Linked DNA regions of Homo sapiens: region 2 is linked to region 1. Evidence: fine-mapped expression QTL. A gene starts in region 1. The other region holds a variant in brackets. All regions are shown on one strand. Distances are from middle to middle. Region 1 holds the start of GPR63 (G protein-coupled receptor 63). Region 2 has its middle 54 kb from the start of GPR63.

Region 1 (11,604 bases):
TTTTATTTCCATATTTAGCACTCCCTTAAGGACCTCTTGCAGGGCAGGTCTGGTGGTAACAAATTCCTGTAGCATTTGCTTGTCTGAAGAGGATCTTATTTTTCATTTGCTTATGAAACTTAGTTTGGCTGGACATAAAATTCTTGGTTGGAATTTCCTTTTTTTTTTTTTTTTTTTTTTAAGAATGCTGAATATAGGCCTCCTCTGCTGAAAGATCTGCTGTTAGCCTATTGGGGTTCTCTTTGTAGGTGATCAGCCTCTTCTTTGCTGCCTATAATATTTTTTCTTTCATGACGACCTTGGGAAATCTGATGATTATATGTCTTAGGGATGGTCATCTTATATAGTAACTCTCAGGGTTTCTCTGCATTTTGTGATTTTGAATGTTGGGCTCTCTAGCAAGGTTGGATAAATTTTTGTGGACAATATCCTCTAGTATGTATTTCCAAGTTGCTTGCTTATTCTCCCTCTCTTTCAGGAATAACAATGAGTCAAAAATTCAGTCTTTTTATATAACACCATATTTTTTGGAGGTTTTGATCATTATTCTTTCTTCTTCTTTATTTTTGTCTGACTGAGTTGATTCAAAGAACTGATCTTCAAGCTCTGAGACTATAGCATAGCCAGCCAAGGGAAGCCACAAGGAGTTAATGTGTAATTCTTTTTCTCAAATCAGGAAGGCTTCTTTACAGGATCTGTATAGTACCTGCAGAACAGTGAGAAGTCATCTGAAACTTTAAGAAAGGCATGCATGGTTACAGCAAGGCAGAGACCAGCAGAAAGGACTGCCTATAAGAGAGGACTAAAGGTATTAGCCACATGGAGAGAGAAAGAAAAGAGAATAAAATTATGAAACATAAAAAATTAATTTGGGAATCCCTGTTTTGGTAAGTCAGAGATAATAACAATGTCCACTAGAGGAAGAGAAAAATAAAGAACTATTTCTAACTTATATGAGAAAGGGTTGAGGGAGAGAGAAGGGATGATTAGCTGAACAACCACTACCAGAATTTTTCCCAAGAAGGAATGGAAGTTCCCTATGTCATGGTGGAATTAGAAGTATAATTCGTGATTTCCAAATGCCGAAGCGTTTACTTAACTACCTTGTCTTTCTAGTTAAGCCCCTGCAGAACTGGGCTGGCAGTGTGTGAGCCATGAAGACTCCTTTTGCTTCTGTAGATAAAAGCAGAGTTTCAAAACCCTTAGTCATATATAAAAACTTTCTTGAATTTTGCATATCCTCAAAATATCTGCACTTTTATTCACTTAACATTTTTATTAAATTGACTTATTTGAATTAATTGCTTTTTAGTAGAGACAGGGTCTCACTATGTTGCCCAGCCTGGTCTCAAACTCCTGGTCTCAAGTGATCTCCTGCCTTGGCCTCCTAAAATGTTGGGATTATAGGCATGAGCCAATGCTCCCAGCCAAAAACGAACTCATTAAAAAAAAAATCTAGCGTCATCCTAAGAAGTAATATCCGTGAAATGAGATTGATATGTTATTTTTCTAATTCTTGATACATTAAATAGACATATTAAAAGTTACCCTACCCTGGCCGGGCAGCAGTGGCTCACACCTGTAATCCCAGCACTTTGGGAGGCCGAGGCGGGCGGATCACAAGGTCAGGAGATTGAGACCATTCTGGCTAACGTGGTGAAACCCTGTCTCTACTAAAAATACAAATAATTAGCCAGGCGTGGGAATACAGGGGTGCCTGTAGTCCCAGCTAGTCGGGAGGCTGAGGCAGGAGAGTGGTTGAACCCGGGAGGTGGAGCTTGCAGTGAGCCGAGATAGCGCCACTGCACTCTAGCCTGGGCAACAGAGCCAGACTTCGTCTCAAAAAAAAAAAAAAAAAAAAAAGTTACCCTACCCTAAAAGTAATCATGTGTCAATAATGGTCCAGATACCAGTGTTGGAAAAACAACAGGCTAAGGCATGGACTAAAAGCAGGCTGAATGGCTGCTCTACGTCTTCCTTCATTGGTCTTGGCCTACTGAATCTTATTTACCGCTGCAGTGTTTTCTTGGAGTGTGTGTGCACGCACACACTTGTGTGTCTTCTTTGAGGGGTAGAAAATAGTGCGATGTGGTAGGATGAGGGAAAGGTTTCTGGCCAAGAGACCATGTCTCTACTAAGGCTTACAAAAAGAACAGAAGCATCAACCATTTAGTCCCTATGGACTTAACCACAGACTTCACCATGGACATCCCAAGATGGAGGCAGCCAGAGCTAGTCACTGGACACCAGCCACCCGAGAAAGATGGGAGCCCAGAGATACTTGGAGAGTAAGCAACTGCAGCGCAGAGAGGCAGCTGGCAGCCAGAGCTAGTCACTGGACACCAGCCACCCTAGAAAGATGGAAGCCCAGAGATACTTGGAGAGTAAGCAACTGCAGCGCAGAGAAGCCGCTGTGTAGGACGGAGTGTGCTCTCCCTACAGAATCCCTCACTGGTCACTCTTTTGGTCCAATCCTATGCCACTGAGGGTTCCCTTAGCAAAGAGACTGGCATTAGAGCCTTGTCCTCAGTGTACAGTGAGTTGAAAGATGCCTTGAATGTAACCAGTAAATATTGGTCAAAAATATTATAATAAAAGATTTCTGAAACTTAAAGCTTGTTTCTCAGGATACTTGACATACAACCAGGCCTAGATCCACATATGTTTATCACTGTTCTATTAGCAAAACCAAGAGAAAGATTTTAATAAAAGGTTAGCTCAACATCAAATAGAAATTTTTAAAAATTTCATTAGGGAGTTTTCCAAATATACTCAATAATAATTAGTACAAGGTAATAAATCTCCATCCACCAGCTTCAAAAATTATTAGTCATTTTTTCACCTATTCCTCCTTCCATTATTTTTGCAGGATTATGAAATTCTTCAATATGCACCCCAATGACATATTTGTTTTATATATAACTGTCATGCCATTATCACATCTAACAAAATTAACAATAATTCATCTATAGTATCAAATTACTTAATCCATAATCTGATTTTCCTGATTATTTCAAGGATTATCTTCACAGGTTGTTTGTACCAAACAGGACATACAGTCCACACGTTGCAGTTAATTATGATCCTTAAATCTCTTTTACTCTTTTGTAGTCTGACCCCTGTTTTTTCATGTCATTGATTCCATATGGAAATCAGGTCACTTTGCTTATTGAATGTTTGACATTCTGGATTTGATTGATTGCTTTCTTCAGATGATTTCTAACTTGATCCTCTGTCCCCTGTATTTCCTGTTAGGTCTAGAGGCTTGATTAGATTCAGATTCCGTTGCTTAGGCCATAAAACCTCTCAGTGGTTCTGGGTACTTCTGATTTTGTCATATCATGAAGTACATGGTATCTGCTTATCAGACTTGTAGTTTATAGTGTTTTTCCCCCTTTATCTTCGTTGTTATGTCTCTTTGGGGGAATTTAAATTTATGCTACCTTTATTATCTTTCTCCAGCCAAAGTTCAGAAAAGTCTGGATTTACATAGACAAAACAATCAGTCAAAATACAGTGGTCTAGATACTGAATTTCTTGGACAAGTTGTATTTGAAAATGTTTACTCTTTCATACACAAAGGGATTGATTAAATAGGGGAAAAAGTTTGTAAGTTATGAACACTTAAGAGGGATTACTGAATGTAAAATTACAAAAAGCACATCACTAATTACTATGTTTAGAAACTACACTATTAAAAGTTAGGATGAAAATAGCTGGAATTTAATGAGTCATCTGCTAATTATTCAGCTTATGGATTTCTAATGCCACTTACTTCTAGCCTTTCTGCTTTTCCTTAGGGAGTTTTTGGTGGTATTTTTACTGCCTTTTAACACCTCCAGAAACGACTCTATGCTTACAACTGACCATAAAATGTACATGTGGAGAGACACATGAAATATTATGACTCAGGATTCATGCTGTGTTACTGAGGTAAACCATGAGCAGTTTACACCACAGTTGAAGATTTTTCAGGGGCAAATGCAGAGTAGAAAGTAGTTAGAAATCTGCTGACTACCTGGCATGCTATCTATGGGAAGAAACGTAACTTATCAAAGTCAATGTACTCACTGAGGAAAGAGACAGGCTCCTCAGGTGCTAGATGTGTTCTATGGCTCCAACTCAGGGTTCTCAGCCATGATTGCACATTGGAATCACTTGGGCAGCTTTTAATCTCACTGATGTCCAGAGTCAACCCTGAAATTGAATCTGGGTCTCTGAGGATGGGCCCCAGGCAACGGTATTTTAAAAAAAACCTCTCAGGTGATTCTAATGTGCAGTCAGGGTTGAAAATATCCAATCTAGTCAATAAGAGGTGGCATTTACAAGTCTTACTGTGTGCACAGGACTGTGCAGAAAATCTCTTGCACATAAAGAAATTGATGCTTGGAGAGATGTTATTTGCTCAATGTCTTGCCTCAAAACAGTTTCACACCTAGTCTATTTAGCTTCAGAACCAGAGGCTTTTGAGCTTACTGTGAACATTAACCAAAGTAAGACATTGAATTCATGTCATAACTCAGAACACGCATGATAATGAAACACAAGTTTAACAAATAATACTTATTAAGTATGATGCATGCTGATATTTTAATTAAAATAATACTAGTCAAAACTTAGTAAAATGACTTCATGACTTGGAGTTTGAAAAACTTTTCTAAACCATGACAGTACAGGTTTCATTTCTGTTCCTGCAAGTGGCAAGATCTTTTTCCCATCAATGCCTTCTCATTTTGTTTGCTTTCTTGCTTGGAAAATCTTTCCTTTTTCCTCTGCATTTAAAAAAGACCATCTAATTGCTTCCTCGCTAGAAAGTGTTTCCAAGACTATTCCAGTCCATAGTGTCTCATTTTCTGATGCCTATTTTTAATACACGGAGATCATCCCACACTTTTTACACTAAATTATATGATATATTGTGATGTTCTGTAATTGTCTTATATCTTAGATAGTTATGTCTCTTTGAGGACAGTGACTACATTCTATGCTTTTGCTTCTATATCCTTCGAAATGTCTAGCAAAAGCACATGTGTGTTAGGGACATCACAGATACTAAAAAACAGCTATGTACCCTACACAAGTCAACCTTTGAGCTTTCATTTCTTTAGCTCTGAAATGAAAGGGATGTTTTAGGTTATTCTAAAGTCTCTTCCAGTTTATTAGTCTAAATTTCTATGATATATGAGGATTTCTATAAAATGCACAAATGAAGAAAAAAATACAAAACTTTTTTTTTTAGCAACTACTGTAAAAGAAAAGTTCTTGTGTGAGACAAAAAAAGCCTGAAATTTTTTGTCACTTTTTGGTAGGCAAAATAAACACCTTTTCAGAGAGAAAGATAACATCTTTCTCTCTGAAAAGATAAAGTTACTGAAGTTTAAAAACAAAGCTGGGCTCTTTGGCACTTGGATACTGAAATGTGATTATTCGTAGGCCACTTTTTTTTCCCCCAAGTTGAATATATATATATATATCAGGGAATTTCCATGAGCTCTTATCAAATTAAATTGATTGCATAACTAAAAAGGCCTAACAATGAATGTGGGCTTGAGGTACATGGAGGCAGGTTTATAATTTAGGGAAAAATAATTGAATACAATCATGGTTTATATATTGTTTGTTTGCAGGTGGTTTGTGAAATGTCACAAATGTCACTCAGGATCTTCTCAGTGGCTCTGAGGCCAAAGGATGTGGCTGGTTGGCTCAATTACTAGCACCTCCATGACCCATCAGCATTCTCATTCTTCTGATCCTGAGACTGTTGGTAAAGGAGCAGAGAGGTGGTCAGTCCCCTTGGTGACAGTGGTGGTGATGTGTGTATACTGGGGAATGGGGATTGTAGTGGGCATTTATAGTCTTTATCTACTCAACATTCTTTTGCCTTCTTTATTAACAACACTTTAATTTTCCTTTGGGAAACCTCTTTCTTTCTACTCGGTCCCTGTGGTTTGGGTATATATGAAGGGTACATACAATTATTTCCCTTGACCTTTTTGTAGATAAAGGCAAATAACCCCAGCCTGGCAGTGTGCATTCCATCCCATAGTTACAATGGTTAGTTCAGAGATGAACGCAGGATCCACGTGGGTCTGGTGAGACATTCTTCAGCTTGCTTTCTTTCTGATGCGACTAATTGCTAAGGAGGTTGGATGTTAAGACTGGAGATGTAGGTCTTCCCTCTGTTTAGAGAAATAAAACCAGTGCAGTGAAAGCACAATGAAGACAGGGAGAGAAATTGAGTCCTGATGCTCTTTGAGTATCTGGAGTAAAAAGGATTTCTAAGAACGTGTGTGTGTGTGTGTGTGTGTGTGTGTGTGTGCGCGCGCCAGTTCTACTTATGGGATTTATAAACATATGAACCAATAAATTCCAATGCCCTTTGCTGCAGGTTTTGCTAACTCAGTTTGAGTTGTGTGCTGGCCACATCCAACTATCCTGACTTCACTTTTGCTCGCTGATAATCTCCTTTCCCATCTTAAAAGTTTGGTCCAGGCAAGACCATGTCTCCTGCTTTTATTGAGCCCAGGGCTTATTTCGTCTCCATCTGGTTACAGAAGTTTCTTCAACCTTTTGTATAGTCTCCTCTTGCCTTATTCTTCTACAAGTTCAACACAAGTGCTTCTTTCACAGCTGTAGGTGGCAGGAGGCAAAGAACTGAGATGTTCTGGTTCAGTCTCAGGGTAGTGATATGCAAGTGCCTTTGTGTGAATGAGGAAATGCCACTCTCTCCGAGCTTGGTGCTAGGACTGGTGCTCTGGAACCCAGGCTAGATCTTAACTCCAAATTGCCTGCCCACCTCCTCAGACAGAGGACACAGTGCAGAGTACAAACTGCACAACACTATACTGAAGTCCCATAGGTCCAAGAAGCAAGGGTTGGAACTATGAGGTAGAAAAACAAGTCCGTGGACAGTAGCAACCCTCTGCTGCTCATGCCCACTGCTGCTGTGGTCTCTTCCTAGGGTGACGATAGCTGCTGATGCTGGGAGCCTCCTGGGCATCACCACCTGAGGCTGTGGCCTCAGTAATGATCACATATGTTGATAATAGCTGAAAATATCACTTGTCACTGAAAGCAGCATTTTCCACTGTCTCAAGATGATACTTTTTCTGGGGGGTCTTCCTGAGTTGTTTGGCATCTTTACAGCCCATGTGTTGATGAAAGTGAATCGTTTTAGAAATCCAGTGGGAGGCCAGCTGGGGATTGGCCATTGGAAGAGAACAGAGCACCGGGTAAAGGAGGATACCTGGCAATTCTCCCATGCCACACATCAGGGACACCTTCAAGCATTGGTCTAGGGGCCCCAGCTGGCTTTTAGTTATTTCAGTCTTCTGGACGCCTGCGTGAGACCCTCATCATTGTGTTGGAAATGAGGAAGAATAACCAAAGAAGAAACGCGAGTAGCCTCGGGGAACGCAAATCCACTGGGCAGTAGCCACTGGAGGTGCACTCTGGGGGCCCGTGGGAGCGGGAAACCAGGACCCTAAAAGGACTGCCAGGGATTAGGGGCGGGGCGACCGTCTGGGAGCGAGGCGCGGGGTGCAGGGCGCAGGCCAACGACGAGGGTTGCCCCAGTGCCGGGTGGGCGCACTTGCGGTACCCTCGATGCCTTTGCCCAGGCGGAGGAACGATGCGACCTGAGCATAGAGGGGTTCAGGGCAGGGAGCGGTCGAAAGGGGCCGGCGATCCGCCCTGGGGCAGCTCGGGCGTGGCCTCCAGGGATCTCTCCGTCTCTACTTGCCTCCTCCCTCTTTACTTGCCTCCTCCCTCTTTACTTGCCCCCTCCCTTTTTACTTGCCTCCTCCCTCTTTCTCTTCTCTCACTCACCTCCCGGTCTAAAACCGGGGCCGGCGCCTTTAAGAGGGAGCGTTGGTTACCCTGGGGGCGGGAACCCCTCGGCGGCTCGCGAGGCGGCGGCGCTCGTCCGCGATGCTCCTCACTTTCAGCTCCAGCTCCCGCCACCGCCGCCTGTATCGCCGCCGCCGCCACCACCTCCTCTTCGTTGTCCTCCTTCCTCCTCCGCCTGGCAGCGTTGTTCTCTGCAGCGGAGGAGAGAAGTGCTATGTCAGGAAAGTTCCGGGAGGGACTACATGGAGCCATGCTCCCTGGGCTCTTCCGCGGGCGCCCGCGCGCTGCCCTTCGCTTGAGGTGAGGTGAGGCTCGGGATCCCCGGCCCGCGATCCCCGGCCCGCGGGACAGGTAGCCGCTCGGGGCGGGGAGCGCTTGCATCCGCTGCGCTGGGCAGGGCGAGCAGTTTGGCGGAGTGCGGGGAGGAATGAGGCTGGAGAGACCGAAGTTGTGCCGGAGAAGCTTGGGTTTTCGGGAGGGTTTTTGCAGCTGGACTGGAGTTATTTCGGTCGGCGCCACACGGTGGGGACCCGGCGGGGACTCGGTTTCTCCCGGGCCGCCCGCCCCCCTCCCCTGCCCGTCTGAGCGGTTAGGCCTTCTAGGAAAACGGTCGGCTGCAGAGGGGCACCCCATGCCGGCTCCTTTCCTGCTGGGCTGTTCTGGTTGAGAATTCAGTGCTGGGAGTGAGAGGAAGGAGATGAGCTCCACTTGAACTTTTACACGGTGGTCTCGCTGCTTGAGGGCTGAAATTTACCTTGTTTGCGAGAGCGAAAGGTCCTTTCGCGCTCCAACAGTTAAGAGAGGTTCCCTCTTCCATGTGGTTCAGCTTGCGGCGCTGTGTGTTGCATCCTTGGCCGGTTTTCAACGTCGCCCTGATTTCAGTCTTTTCTCCTCTGCCCCTTTTCGGAAACATTCTTCTTTTTAATAATAAAATATGTTGTGGAGGCTCAGAGTGCTTAAAAAAAAAATCCAACAACATATCTTTATGAAAATTTCCCCCAGGGCTTGCCCAAATTTTCAAAGAGATCGTTTAGTCTTGGATGAGACTGAGTCTCGACACTTAGGGAATACAGGCATCCCTATAGTAGCATGCAGGTTTTTAGTGAGGTAGGATGAAGTTTAAACCATATGTTTTTAAAATAGGATTTCTCTTTGTTTATTGGGTGAGCTTGTTTTTCATTATGTCTTAGATTAAGAAGCCTTCAACCAGTTCTAGGAGTAGTGTTTCTAAGAATCATGGATAAAAACCTCATGTTTCTTGCATAAGCTGATACTGCTTCAGACATTCTAATCCATTGACGAGGTATGTAATACGTGTTTCATTTAATGAAACCTAACATAAAAGTACATTTATTGCAGACGTGGATAAGTTTTTTTTCCCACGTGTCCCGTGGGTAAAGGAAGCCCCATTTTCTCACACCCCTAGGTCTCTGCCACACCTCTATTCCTGTTTGCCTTATTCACTCACATTGCCAACTACAAATCTAAGGTGCTGATGAAAAGTCCCTATATTTTGTAAAATGTTGCATAGCCAAAATTTTAGTGACATAATTGATTACATCAATTATGAGCATTCAGATCATTTTGAACAATAAAAACAGAATGTGGGAGCTTATTTAAATAAAAGAGTGCCTTGACGTATTTCTGGTATATGCGTTACGTACAATTTTGTGTGTGAAAAGTATACTACCAAGGCAGACGGGATAGTGTAGGAAACATATTGTTTGTAATGGGAAGTTTTCGAAGAAAATCATCCCAGAATAACCAGTAATACTGTAAAATTTTGTTTGGGATATAGATTTTTATCTCTAAGTACAGTTTTGTCACTTTGCTGTAAAGTATACCAGTACCGAAACTCAAAAAAAGAACCCACCATCTCAAGCATTTTCTGAAAATTTCAGCAAGCTGAACATTCTTGGAGAAAAATTTGCTTAGGAAAAATAAACATAACTAAAACCCCTATGTAGTTACTGTTTTACCTTAAGTTTGCTGGACTGCAAGCAAGAAAGTAAGAATTTAGTGTTCCTAAGTGGATGTGACTTAGTTCCTAGAGTTACTTGAGCACCTTGAGATTTTGTTTATGGTTTATTTAATTTGGGTTGATTGTTTTGTGAATGAGTATTTTGGAAATGATACACACAGAGGTGGATTTGTATATGTATATATCCATATCACACATATATCTATATTTATGTATCCATACTATATATAGTATAACTATATATACCATATCTGTATATGCTATTGAGTATATAAAAAACATGAAAACCATTTAGGGACCTAATAATACATGTGCACCAGGAACAGTAGGTCTAAAATATCAGCTAAAAATAGTTATTGCTAGGGCTTGTCATCTTTTCAGCATTTTAGTCAATATCAGTTAAGTTAAAAAGCACTGGTTTTCAGTATGTTCTCGAACTCTTAACAAGGCTTGGATCAGGGAACCATATCCTAACCACATTTATCTATTCAAATGGATTGAATTACCCTGCCAATGGATAATTGAACCAGGCATTTCTTAAGCTTCAATAGGCAAATTCTAGGTAAAATTTAGTTTGTCAATATAGTGTTTTCTTCTTTTAATACTTCAAAAATAACCTTTAGGACATTCTTCATAGATCTGGGATTTAGAGAGTAGACCTCAAAGGCATGAGAGGCAAACCTTGGGGAAGTTCTGGTACTCCAATTTGTGAAATGATGTCTTAAGCACTTGATTTGAGAGAGGGACCCATTAATGCTTGGAAAAACAATATGTATAAATACAGTGCTCCAGTTACTACAAGCAAAACTATTTCATTCACCTTTGTTATGTTTGTTACCACATTTCACAGCTGAAGCTGCTATATTTCAGCTTATGTATGAAAATTAGAAATGAAATGAAGTAATCTGTTAGGCGGTTTTTTTTTCTTTAATTTGCTAGCTGTTTACCAGAAATGTGTTTATATTTGCTGCAAATCACCTTTACTTTGTTGCAGGTGGCACTTTTTCCTTTTTTTTTTTGCAACTATGACATATGTATATTTAGGATGAGTTCTTAGTGTTTCCTTGAAGACACATGAATGAGTTTCACAGAGTTTATGTTGCATTTCTTCAACTTTCAAAACACAACATTTGAGATGTTTGACTACCAGCCTGAGATCATAGATCTTAAGAGCTGATGTGATCCTGGTCAGTTATAGTTTCAATTTCCGGGGAATTTTCTGTTTAAGGTTAGATGTGCCCTCAATTTGAACTAGATGATCCACAAAATTGGTACTTTTGCAACCACAAAACATGAGAACATTCCAAATGATTTGAAGTGTGGGCAGCCCAACATGCTTTAGGATTTGGTTGGCTTGAGGCGGTATGCCATGCTTGTAAAAATGGTTTCTGAAGCTGACAGCAAGCTGTTTCAGGCTTTAAGTTTGACACATAGGATAAAATGCATTCTAGCCTCTGCACCAGTAAATATGGACAAGATTTGTATCCACTTCTGTTTGTATGACAGAAGATTCAGAAAACTCAAGCGTGAAACTCTAGCTTAATACACAGGAAAGCTCATTCATGTTCATTATAAACATAATGAAGAGTTAGAAAAGTTGGATTTTAACACAGCTCTCGGGTCTTGGGGAATAGATGGTATATTTGCAGGTATGGGGGCAATCTAGTGGTCACCTATTGAAATTAATAATAGGGTTATTATTATCAGCATTTCCTTTGAGTGATATGCTAAAGAATTACATCTTCCCAGATACAATTTAGAAAAACCCCCAGCCA
Region 2 (12,958 bases), 56 kb after region 1:
TCAACGCCCATGTCTTCAGTCTCTGATGACTCACCTACTATTCTAACCTGCTTCCTGGACTTAAGAGAGAAAGTAATCTTGGGGTTTTCTTATACCATCCAGGCAAGTTTGGAGATTAATGTGTAGAGCGAATAAGATTGCTAATTTGTACTTGCTAAATCTGGCAGCCCTGAATACTGAACATATGTATATATTTTTTTGGCCCTATGATTTCCAATTCACGTCATGCAGGAGGTCCTCCATTTCACTTATTTATGAGGTGGCCCTGTGACTGCAACTTATGGTCTCGACTAAATATGCTGGGGCTCAGGCTCTTCACAGGGTAGAGGGAGAACATGACTTATGATGCAGCTGAAGAGTGCACATGCAGATGGACTAATAATGACTGCATGTAAGGTGCGTTTCTTTGACTGTTTTGGGTAATCGGAATGATTGATGATGGGGATATGGACAAGTCATATTCCATGACCACCTCCGTCATGGAGATTTTGGTTGGGAAAAGTTTTCTGTTGATGGAATTAGATATACATATGTCGAACGCCATTTTGAACACTTGCAACAGATCTTCAGAGTTTAAATCACTTTCACCACAGTTTTGGCAGGACTGTGACATTTTTTTTCAGTTGTTCTTCCTGATGGGAGCTATAAATAGCTTTGAGGAAGGATATAATTATCCCAAAGTAGAAGCTAAAGATGAAAAATCTGCTTGAGATTTTTTAAGGAACATTTAATAGTTATTATTATGTAACATTTATTAAGTATGCTCACTGTGCTCATTGTCTTTGCCAGGAAGAAACTGGGAATAAAAAGTCAATCCAAGATGTGACATGTATAAATAGACTAAAAGGTACATACATTAATGTGGTGCCAAAACAAACAGTTGGCTTAATAAAAAAAGAAAATTTAGAAGAACAAAAAGGCAGCCAAATCAGTCTACTATTGTATAGAAGTGAGGAAAACTTAAAATTTAGTAACAAATCTTTGAAACACTGACCATTTAAAACAAAGATGGATAGTCTGTAAAAACAGGGAACATTGGCCGGGTGCGGTGGCTCATGCCTATAGTCCTAGCACTTTGGGAGGCTGAGGAGGGCAGATTGCCTGAGCTCAGGAGTTCCAGACCAGCCTGGGCAACGTGGCAAAACTCCATCTCTACTAAAATACAAAAAATTAGCTGGGCGTGGCAGCGTGTGCCTGTAGTCCCAGCTACTTGGGAGGCTGAAACAGGAGAATTGCTTAAACCCGGGAGATAGAGGTTGCAGTGAGCCAAGACTACACCGCTGCACTCCAGCATGGGCGACAGAGCAAGACTCCATCTCCAAAAAAAACCAAAAAAAGGCAGGAAACATTATGGTATGTGCATGGGGTGGGGGTGGGTAATGCTGTGTTTTTGGCAACTAGCTCAGACTTTTACATATAAAAGGTGTTTACTTTGCTTAATGAGTAAGTTCTAAAATATGTAAATACTAAACAAAGGTTCAATGTTGGTTGAAGCAAGGTAAGTGTTATAAATAATGATTTCGGTTGTCAGTTCCTGGTTAAGACTTTTATTGCTGTTTAAAGCCCATAGAGAGTCCACAACCAAATAATTACATTAATGGAAGTCACTTATTTGATGCCTGCTAGGTGATGCAAATACTTTATGTAATCGCCAGTCCTTATAATGACTCTGGGAGGTAGATATTATTTATAAATCTTTAAAGCTTCAAGTGGTTAATTGGATTTTAAGAGGCTACGGGACTCATAAAGTGGAGGTACTGTTACCAAAACACCAGGGGTTCCCTGCTGCTCACTACGGAAAAAGCCATCACTGAGACGAGTATCACCAGGGAAGAAGGCTTCTAGTGTTGCAGCCAAGAATGGGAGATCAATCTCAAATCTGTCTCCGCAAGTGACTAAAATTAGGGGTTTATATAGCGGGGAAGAAATGGAACTCCACATGGGAAAACAGGAATTGGAGAAGGGGGTAAGGAAGAGGAATTGGTTAACAGGCAGCAAGTGGTTGGTTAGGCAATCATGACAGGTATTGGGTCTGACGTCTCATTGTCCAGATGCAGTGACTGATTGGAAACTTTCAGTTTCTTGACACTGTCTGGGAGGCCTGATGGTTGGTTTCCTGAGAAAGAAACTCAGATAAGACAATGCAAGTTTCTCAAGTTTTAAGACTGCGAGGGTCAATTTCTAGGTTTTTTCAAAAGAAACCATAAACATCAGTTATATGGGACAGTTGGGCTGGTTTCAGAACAAGAATTTAAACCTGCGTCTGTATGGACACTGAAACTCATGTGTTTTTTGTTTCCTTCACTTTATTCTTTCCTCATTCATGAAGGATTTTCCTTTAGAATCTGATTGTCCCAATCAACCTAGCTTGGGCCTCCTGACTCATCCTGTTGCCTCTGGCCTGCTCAGCTTGTCCTCAACTCCTCCATGGTCGGCTGGCTCTAAGCTTGGTGATTTGTCTACATTATTCATCACTTCTTCATCTCAGTATATACCAGGTTCAGCATTACTACTCAGCGCTGGTAATTTGCAGCAGTGCCACCGCACAATTTCTGACATAGGTAAAACATGCATATCCACTTTGTGACCTAAAGTAATGTGTTTCTCATTTGCAAGCAAGAGACACAAGAAATGAATTCAAGATCCCTGTTAAGCATTATTGGCCCTTATATCTTCAGAGAAGGTCTGAGTGTAGGGTGAAATCTAGGCAGGCCAGGCAGGCATGCAGCTTCTGGAGGCCAGTGCAACAGAAGACTTTTGAGATCTAAATAATACAAACAATGGTAGTTTCTTTGTGCTAGGTTATTCCTGGGAAAATTTTCAGACATGATGACCATCAGAAAGGCAGAAAAGATTTAGGTAGTGAGGAGGGACTCAGGCTGGTGAAGTTCCTACTCAGGTCTTTATTAACTGAATGCCAAATACCTCCTTTCTCAGGAATGCTAGCTTGACCATGGGATCTCAGGAGATCTGGAGGCCCGTGGCTCTGGTCATGAAGTCCTGATTCTCAGAAGCAGAGCCTCATGGAAATTTGACCCTTTCTGTAGCCTGGGTGCTTATCTGGGTGCTTTCAATATAATTCCCAAAGTGGCCGACATAGTACTATGGACGTTAGAAGGGTTAGGAGTAACACTAGAGTAAAAACAGCAGTTCCTTCCTCTTCTGGAAAGGAAACCATTACCCACAAGGGTATACTCAGCAATCATGCTTATGACAAAAATTAAAATATGGAACATGGGATATGGTGAGGGCTAGGAAGTGAACCATGAAAATACTGTCACTGTGGGACAGGTTATAATATAGCTTTTCAAATACTGTCTTGACCTAGTTTGGGGGCCCTGGTTAGAGGCTGGCCAGTTGCCCTTCTTTAGCTGATTAAGTCCATATCCAGAAACACCTTCCCTATCAAGCTTTTATTCCCTAAGTCAGCCATATACCCCACCTACCCTAATTCCCCCAGTCAGACACTAGGAACAGCCCTTAGGCTCCAGAGCTTGCTGGATTAGTCACACTAACCAATCCCAAGTCTGCATACCCTGCCTCACCCCTGAGCAATGCACAATAGAAGCTTCAGCCCACAGTTCCCCTTCTCTTTCTGCCCTGTGACAGATCCCAGTATAGCCTCCTATGGCGTAACATGTACTCTTTCTTGCGAACTGTTAGTAGTATAAACTGTCTTTTCAATGGCACTCATCTCCTGATGTGTTGGCCTTACCACACAGAAATAATAATAAAATCTATTACAACACAAGTGCACATCAAGGGTAGATGAGAGAATTTGGGAAATGACCTAAGAATTTATAAACCTTAAGAAATGGACTTTACAAGAATGATGCCAGTGTGTAAAGGCCTCAGGAAGTTAATGGGGTGCAGAGCTGGCTTAAAGGTAGGGGCTGAAGTTATCTGGTTTTACATAGTTCTTTTATGCCTTCAGATCTCTCTCTATTGTCATTTGAAGAAAATATACCTTTGTTGCCCTCACACCTCCTCTGCCCTTGTTCTATATACCATGTGCTCTGATTGTCTTCATGCTGTGCAACTTGACTCGCCCACTGGCATCCTGGCTAAAGTCTTACTACTTAATCTTTTGTGAATGACTTCCTCCATTGACTGACTTTTGGGGCTTTTTTTCTAGCAGTTAGTTGTGCTTCCTTCTTAAAGGAGTTAAAATTCTCTCTCTAGCCATGCTTCCTTAGGCTGCCTGGGTAATCATTGGTGCAAACATTATTCTGGGTGTATTACCCTGACCCCACAAATGTGACATGAAAATCAATCTGTGTATTCATTAAAGTAGTGATAGCTTTTGTGTCAATAAACCCCTCAAATCAATAGCTTAACATAAGAATAGTTGATTTCATTTTCATGTAACAATCCAATTCAAATGTCCCCAGTTGGCTCCAAGCAATCACCCAGGAATCCTTCTATGGGAAGCTCTAGTATCTTCAGCATGCAGATCCTAATGTATTCCAATATACAGCTAGTATTCCAATATACAGCTGTATTCCAATATAAAGCCAGTGATAAAAGAGATACCAGGCCTGGACACCTGGAAGATTTTTATGGCCAAACTTGAATATGGCCTCCATCACTTTCACAAATATTTCTGTGGATAGAAGTTGGTTATGTGGTTGCACCTTCCTGCAGTGGAGGCAGAAATATGGTCTAGCTTGTGTGCCCCAGATGAAAAGGAAATGAGTTTTGGTGAAAACAAAGTCATTTCTGCACAGTAGAGCCAACAGTGACCACTTTGTGGCCACAGCATCCCAAAGAGAGAAAACCTTCACCTGAGACTGTGGGTTTCCCTCACTGTTTGATAGTAGCCCATGAGAGTTAGCCCGTGTACAGCTCCAGCTTCCATCTTCAGACCCATGCCAAAAAGATTTCCTCTGACACAGTCTAAGTCCTCAACTTCCTTATGGCATTGATGAGCTCTGTATCCCAGGCTGTGAAATTTATGGATGAGGCAGAATGACTGACAGTCTTGATATCCTGGCTGAGAAGAGAGACAAACAGATGAACAATCCCACACTCATGACCAAACCAACTTTCCCCAGATCAGCATGAGGATTTCTCACAGTATTTCAGGCCATGTTAGGCCATCCCAGCCTGGCACTAAGTGCCTTCACACCCATCTGCCGCCTTTATCAGGGCATCAGTTAATGTGTTGCTGTATCTTGAAGTTCTGTTTGCTGGCACAGGCTTTATTCAGGGTCAATGAGAACCAGAGTGTTTGACACCAGGGAGGCTTTCCAGACACGTCTATGATTTATTACTCTAGGCCACAAAGTCAGCTGTCTGTGTATAGGAGGTCAACTGACCAGCCAGCCATATCTTCTCATTGGCAGAGGGCTGGACATAAACTATGTGAGTGGAGGAAGAATGCTGCTGCCATATGATAGCAGAATCGGTGGGTACATTTACAATGACATCCTAGGGAAACCAGCTGCTTCTGTAAATATTCCCCTCTGTCTATTCAAGGTGCCCTTTATCTGATGATTTGTAAATGCTGTAGTCTGCTCTAGTAAGTGCAACTGCTAGTTTTCTTCTTCTTTTTACTAGCTTATTATTTTCTTCTTGTCTTCTTCCCTCTTGTAACTGTTCCAATAAGGCAATGAACACTGCTTGTAGAATCCAGGCAGGCTGGACACAGTCCCATAGAATAGTAGTTGGAGAAAATCCTGTCCTCCGGGTCCTGGTGCATAGGTCCAGCTACTTTGTTTAAGTCTGAGTAAACACCACTGATTACCACTGATGGGTGCACACTAGGATAGGGCTTATGGCTCAGAAATGTTTGGGTGGAGGATCACATGGAACTAGTACTGGAGGTCAACTGTGATAAATAGGCATCCATATAAAAGTGCACCTTAAACAATCCTATGTGTCTCATGGGCCCTCACATACTCGTAAATGAGATTTTCCCATCTTCTGAGCTCATTTCTTAATTCTTCCATTTATGATTTCATTTTACTCCCAGGATCTGATGCTGGGCTCTAAATGTGTTGTATTTTCTTGACTATAATTCAGATTATGCCTCTGGAATTGTGGCTGCAAGTTTCCTGGGAAGATATTTGACCTGGCCCAAGATTTCCTCCAGATTCCTGTATACCACCCAGACCTTAATCTTCAGTTCTCCTTCTGAGGCTCCCTGGGATTCAGGAACTAGGATTAGTTAGAAAAGACCATTTGCATCAATGGGACAAACTGTCATTGAAA[A/G]TAAATGTCCTAAGTTGTCTATATCTCAGGTTCTTTTACTGCAAAAGTACTATATTCCAAATATTTGTTTGTGCGTGTTTAATAAATAGTTGGATAATCCCTATTCTGCTTTCTGGAAGGTTCTCTCTTGTCCATTGCTTTCCATGGCTACACCTCAGATGGGTATTGGAGAGAGTGAGCCTTCCAAGAGTTATCCCTAAGGAGTCTGCTTTGGGTTAGTAAAATTTCAGTGTTCTGGGAGTTGATTTAGAGCTCAAGCAAAGCAACTTCTTTATCAATTAATGAGGGCTCCTACCCACAGCCTCCCTTTCTATTCCCTGAGTTCCAAGGGCTAGTAACTAAAGGTCAAACATTATGTCAAGACATAGTTCTTGACTTGTGAAACTGGGCATGGGAATTTCAATCTCTTAAGCAGCTGGCCTTGCCTTTGTCTCAGGCATTGGCTCACATACTTGCCCCTCAACTGAATGGCTTCTACCTAGAAATAAAATCAAGCGACAGCTGCGGTAGGAGTCACCAGTAATTCTCCTCTTGCCCCTAGGCTCCATCCTAGCTTCTTCTTTGCAATTAGGTGAGTTGAATTTTGTCAGTCCTGGGGTGCATAACTGCAGATAGTTGAGGGGGAACACATCCCAATTTCCTCCCGGGGATGACTTCTTCCCAGCTTTCTGGCATGTTTGTTAAATGACAGCATAGTGTGCCATTTTCTACCCCAGGTTTCATTTCATTGGATTTTTAGCCATCTCAGATTGTGGACCCTCAACAGAAATGGTCTCTACTAGCATATTTGTAATTTTCCTTCTTTTCTCTTTTCAGATGGGCCAATTTCAATCTAAATCCAATATTTTCTTGGTAGGACCTTACTGAAGGCCATAACAAATAACACTCTGAGCTCCCATTTGTTTTCCTATCAAGTCTTGTATTGAGGAAGCTTCAGGAAGCACATGGTCTCAGTCCCAAGATACAAGTAAATATTTCACTACTCCTTAGCAAGGATTGCCAGCTTCCCTGCCCAAGACAGAAAGTCCTTGTTATTTTCACCACGACTTTGCCAATTCCATCTTCTTAATTCATCTCTTATACTACCCCACTTCCAGTCCTTTTTGTTTTTAACATGCTGGAAGGGCTCTTTCCGTTGTAAGTAACAGAAAATTAACCAATCTGTTTGGGCCAGACAACATGCTCCACCCTGGATCCCAGAAGTGTGTGGGCTAAAAGCGAGAGGAGGAGTGGGTGACTTCTTAGAGAGAGGTTGGGGTGCAATACGGTTATCTGGGTTACTAGCAGCGAGTGTGTACAGGTCTGCAGCAACCTCAATTCTTGCCTTCTCAGAAGAAAGAATTGAACTAAGGGGCATAAAGCAGAAAAAGAGATGAAGGCAAGTTTCAGAGCAGGAGTGGAAGTTTATTTAAAAGCTTTATATTAGGAAAGAAAGGAAAGTACACTTGGAAGAGACCCAAGTGGGCAGTTTGAAGGTCATGTGCCCCGTTTAACCTTGATCCTAGGACTTTATATGCTGGCCCCCTCCTGTCATCTTGCGTCTCTTTTCCCATGATTCTTCCCTTAGGGTGGGCTGCCTGCATGCGCAATGCCTTCCTTGCACTTGGGAGGTGAGCACGTGCAGTGTGTTTACTAGCGTTGTGCATACAGTCACCTGAGGCTTTCTTCCCTTTTCTAGTGGAATGCCCCTGGAAGGTCATACTTAGCCATTTTGTCTCTTAAAACTCACGCTCAAGCTCACTCACCCAGTTCCTGAGATTTTATTGGAAGTTGCTGATTACCATTTTCAAGTGTTTTTATTCTGTTGAGAAATTGCTTCTCCCTAGCACCTGTGACCAACTATCATTTTAATGTGACAGCTACCAAGCCATCTCCCTGGCACTGGCTGCAACCAATGATCATTTTTAGAGAGGTAGTGTGACAACTGCCAGACCATCACCTAATGGTTGCCTCACATTCCTGGTGGATGGGGAGCCCTCTCCTTTCCTGCTCATGCCTGACTACCTACTGTAACACAATGACTAAAATGATGGTCTATAAATATTGGGTCATCAAAAAACAACACATTTCCATTACATTTGGTTTCCAAACAAAGCCAATGAATGCTGTTGGAAACAATAATATTGCACAATCCTAAAAATTGGTGCCACTTCAAGTTCATGTTCTCCAACTTTATTTGGACCTCAGCACTACTTGACAAACTTTTTACACTGCCCTGGTCAGCTCTTTTTATAGGCTCCAAAACTGATTATTTTTAACCCACATCAGTTCTTCCTAACTCTCGTTCAGCTTCAGCAGACAACCTTGCCTCTGGGTGCACCATGAAGGCAAGCAACATTTTCTGATATCCTACTCCTTATATAGTCACTGGGATATGTAGTCCCTCAATAAATATTGAATCAATTGCTGAAATATGGAAATACAACTATTGGACAATGTTAATAATGTGAGTTACTGTTATAAAGTGTGCTATGGGGAAGTAGATTAGTGTGGAGGAAGGAACATAAGCTTTGAATTGCAGCAGATGTGGGGTCAAGTTTTGACTTGGCCAGTTGTTTACTCTGAGCCTTTGTTTTCTCATCTGTGAAAGAAAGAAAAGACAACATATCCTTCATTGTTCTTCCGAGATTTGGAAATAAAATGAAGTTTGTAAGGCACCTGGCAGACAGATCTCATTCTGTTAATGGTAGTTAGAATGATAAATAATGAGGATGGACTTGTATCCCATATGATAGCTTATTTGTTCATCTCGTCAGCAGTTGCTGCAATGGAACTAATAAATTTTCCTCCCAATTCTTTCTCATTTTCCAATAATGTGATAATAAAATAAATATTTGCTTTAAAGGAAAAATGACAAGATGTGGATATCTTACCCTATTATTATATGACAGGTCTTATTTCCTTTTTTCACCATGATAATTTGAGTTCACTGTGTCTAAGCCCTCTCTGTATTGAGAAGCTGGGAATTGATATAGTGATGTGAAAAATAAAGGAAAATTATAGTTTTGCCTTGATTACTGAGATAAGTCCCTCCAAAAAGGGCTGATTTGGCTTTTCTTTTTAAAAACGTCTCCGTTCTTATTATAAAATGAAAACATTTATATTATATAGAAAATCTGAAAGATGTTGCAAAGCACAAAATATTAAAAAAAAATCCACTGACAACTAACCTATAAATATCCTCAACTAACCTATGAATAACCTATAAATATTTCTCTTTTTTTGTGAATGTGTATCATTGCTATATAAAACAGAAATCAAATTCTTTCTTCTTATTATTATTAAAGAGACAGGGTCTCACTCTGTTGCCCAGGCTGGAGTGAAATGGTGCAATCATAGCTCACTGTAGCCTCAAACTCTGGGCTTAAGCCATCTTCCCACCTCAGCTTCCCAAGTAAGTAGCTATGACTACAGCCGCACACCCCCATGCCCAGCTATATATATTTTATTTTTTTGTAGAAACAGGTTCTTGCTATGTTGTCCATACTGGTCTCAAACTCCTGGCCTCAAGTGATTCTCCTGCCTCAGCCTCCCAAAGTGCTGAGATTACAGGTGTAAGCCACTGTGCTTGGCTGAGAAGTCAGATTCTAATACTATTTTAATTTGCTTTTCACTCAGTAACAATTCCATCCAGTATTGCTTTACAATATTACATAAAATGCTGTGATGAACATCCCTGAACATATTTACTCACATTTGTGGGTTTTGTTGTTTCGTTTGTTTGTTTGAGATAAATTCCAAGGGGTTGAATTGTGAGGTTCAGAAGGCAGTCAGTCATTTTTGAAATTTTGGACTTATTGTCAAATTGCTGTTTAGAAAAGTTGTATGAATTTATATTCATTGTAGCAAATGCCTATGTCCTAATTGAAGACTGAGCTCCAGAATTAGTTTTTAATTTTTATTTTGGTAAATGAAAAATGGAACGTATTTCAAAATGCTTTTCTTTTATTGTTAGTAGACCAAGCAATATTACATGTTTATTTCCTTTTTCTATTTCTTGTGAACTACTTTTCCCATTTTTCTGTCGGGGCATTTGTCTTTTCCTTGATAATTTATGGGAGTTTTCCTAACATACAGCAGATGTAACCTTAGCATTGGTTTCTCTAGGCTCTGGCCATCGGCATTGCTTTCAGTTCTTTAAACATATCACACCCACTGGCCTTCCTGTCTTCATACGTTATTAGTAAAAAATTCATCTTTAAGCAGTTTGACTTAACCAGGTAGCAACTAGCATGTCAGACAATTGCCATGAGCTGAAAAGAATTCTGATGTGCCTTGACCCTTCCCTTAACAGAGATACAAATAATCACAAGTTTCTAGTGAAGTTTTATGGGTCAGTGCAGAGTGAGAAGAATTCAGTGAAATTCTGGTACAAATGAAGTAAACTTTATTTTATTTATTTAATTTAAATCATAAATTTGGATTTAGTAGAGTTTCTCTCTCTTCCTCAGGTCTTAAACATTCCTCAGGATGGTCTTCTGTAAGCTTCCGCAACCCCACTTGTCAATGGTAAATCCTCGCTATCTGTTCTGAAAGCATAGCACTGTATATACTTGCCTTTTCATAACACTCTTCACAATTAGAATTTCTTTTTATTGCTTGCCTTCTGCAACAGTGTAAACACTGTTAGGGTAAAGACATGCCACCATTGTTCACTGTTGTTTGACCATAGCCACAATTTCTTCTTTCTCTTTGTTAATGGAAATTTGTTCAGATATTCATCCCTGTGGTCCTCAGAAGAGGCCATCCTCACACCCCACTCTAACAGTAGTTGATTGATCTAAATTTTCTTTTTTTTTTTGCCAATGAGTTTATCATGATTAGGTGCATGATACAATTTGAGCTGATGAAGCACAAGGAAAGATTTCCTGAAAGCATTTCCTTCATCTCCTGGGCTACCTTCCAAAAAGGAGGTCACTCATATTCTGGACATGGAGACTATATCTCAGAACTCTGCCTCTTTTTCCTTTGGACTGAGGATGAAATCAATGCACAGGTGTCACTCCTGAAACCCACATCACGGCTGACTTCTGGTTATGTGTGCCAATAAATGTCCTTGTTTAAGCCAGTTTGAATCAGGTTTTCTATTACTTTGGCAAAGTGCACCATATCTAATATATATCTAATCAGTCCATACACTGAACAAATACTTACTGAATTGAATCAAAAATTATTTCTCATGTATGATGTATGTGTCTTCCTTAGTTTACATTTTATCCCTTACGTTTTTGTTTTGCTTAATTATAAGATAATAAAATTTATTTTCAAAAGTCAAAGCAATACAGAAATATGACAGAGAACTTTAATCTCTACTTTCTTCTTTCTAATTATGCTTTCCTGAGGTAGCTAATGCTAACCTTTGGCTGGATGTACCTGTGTATTTTCCTCTGGGCTCATAGAGATTTACAAACTTCTATTGTGTTTAGTTTTGTTTACTTGTTTATTCATTTTACAAAAATCGGGTCATGGTGTATATATTGTTGCACAATATCTTTGTTTTGTCTTCAAATTAATAGCTCATGGCTGTTTTTATAGGTTGGTCTACCTGGATACAACTCATTCTCCTTAATAACTATATACCATAGCTGATTTCTTTGCATTTCTGCTCTGGTTAAATGTTTCTCACAGAGGTTTTTTTTTTTTTTTAATTGCAAATTTCTTTTTTTAAAATTTTTTTATTATACTTTAAGTTTTAGGGTACATGTGCACACCGTGCAGGTTTGTTACATATGTATACATGTGCCATGTTGATGTGCTGCACCCATTAACTCGTCATTTAACATTAGGCATATCTCCTAATGCTATCCCTCCCCTCTCCCCCCACCCCACAACAGGCCCTGGTGTGTGATGTTCCCCTTCCTGTGTCCATGTGTTCTCATTGTTCAATTCCCACCTATGAGTGAGAACATGCGGTGTTTGGTTTTTTGTCCTTGCGATAGTTTGCTGAGAATGATGGTTTGTCCTTGCGATAGTTTGCTGAGAATGATGGTTTCCAGCTTCATCCATGTCCCTTTTTTTTTGTTTGTTTGAGACGGAGTCTCGGTCTGTTGCCCAGGCTGGAGTGCAGTGGCGCGATCTCGACTCACTGCAAGCTCCGCCTCCCAGGTTCATGCCATTCTCCTGCCTCAGCCTCCCGAGTAGCTGGGACTACAGGCGCCCGCCACCGCGCCCAGCTAATTTTTTGTATTTGTAGTAGAGACGGGGTTTCACTGTATTAGCCAGGATGGTCTCGATCTCCTGACCTCGTGATCCACCAGCCTCAGCCTCCCAAAATGCTGGGATTACAGGCGTGAGCCACCGCGCCCGGCCCAGAGTTTTATTCAATACTTTTTAAAAATGTAAATTTGAAACTTTAACTGTTTCCCCTTTGACTGTTCACTTTATGTCTCCAAATTTGGGGCATAAGAAGAAAATAGTAGATAGCCTGCACAACATGGCTTAACCTCATCTCTACCAAAAAACAAAAATGAAAACAAACAAAAAAAAGCATGAAAATTAGCCGGTTGTGGTGGTGGCACATGCTTGTAATCCCAGCTACTTGGGAGGGTGACGTGGGAGGATTGCTTGACCCAGGAGGCAGAGGTTGCAGTGAGCCGAGATTGCACCACTGTACTTCAGCCTGAGTGACAGAGCAAGACCTTGTGGACGAAAAGAAGAAGAAGAAGAAGGAGAAGGAGAAGAAAGAGGGAGAGGGAGAAGAGTGGTTGATGAAGTGACTTAGGCAATGGGAAGAATGTGTTAAGGC

Evidence for each region. PIP is the estimated chance that this variant, and not a neighbour inherited with it, causes the effect.
Region 2: its variant is the best candidate, but not a certain one, in a credible set for the expression of GPR63 in blood mononuclear cells (TOPMed, PIP 0.78).

Annotation. Positions count from the first base shown.
Region 1 is chr6:96,833,812-96,845,415 of GRCh38, reverse strand. GPR63 (G protein-coupled receptor 63) reads left to right here and starts at 7,939. Exons shown (of 2, transcript NM_030784.4): 1 at 7,939-8,148. RefSeq lists a silencer at 8,380-8,429.
Region 2 is chr6:96,777,158-96,790,115 of GRCh38, reverse strand. No RefSeq gene overlaps it. Among named protein-coding and RNA genes, the nearest start is that of GPR63, 54 kb to the left of the region's middle. The variant A/G (reference allele first, on the strand shown) is at 6,214.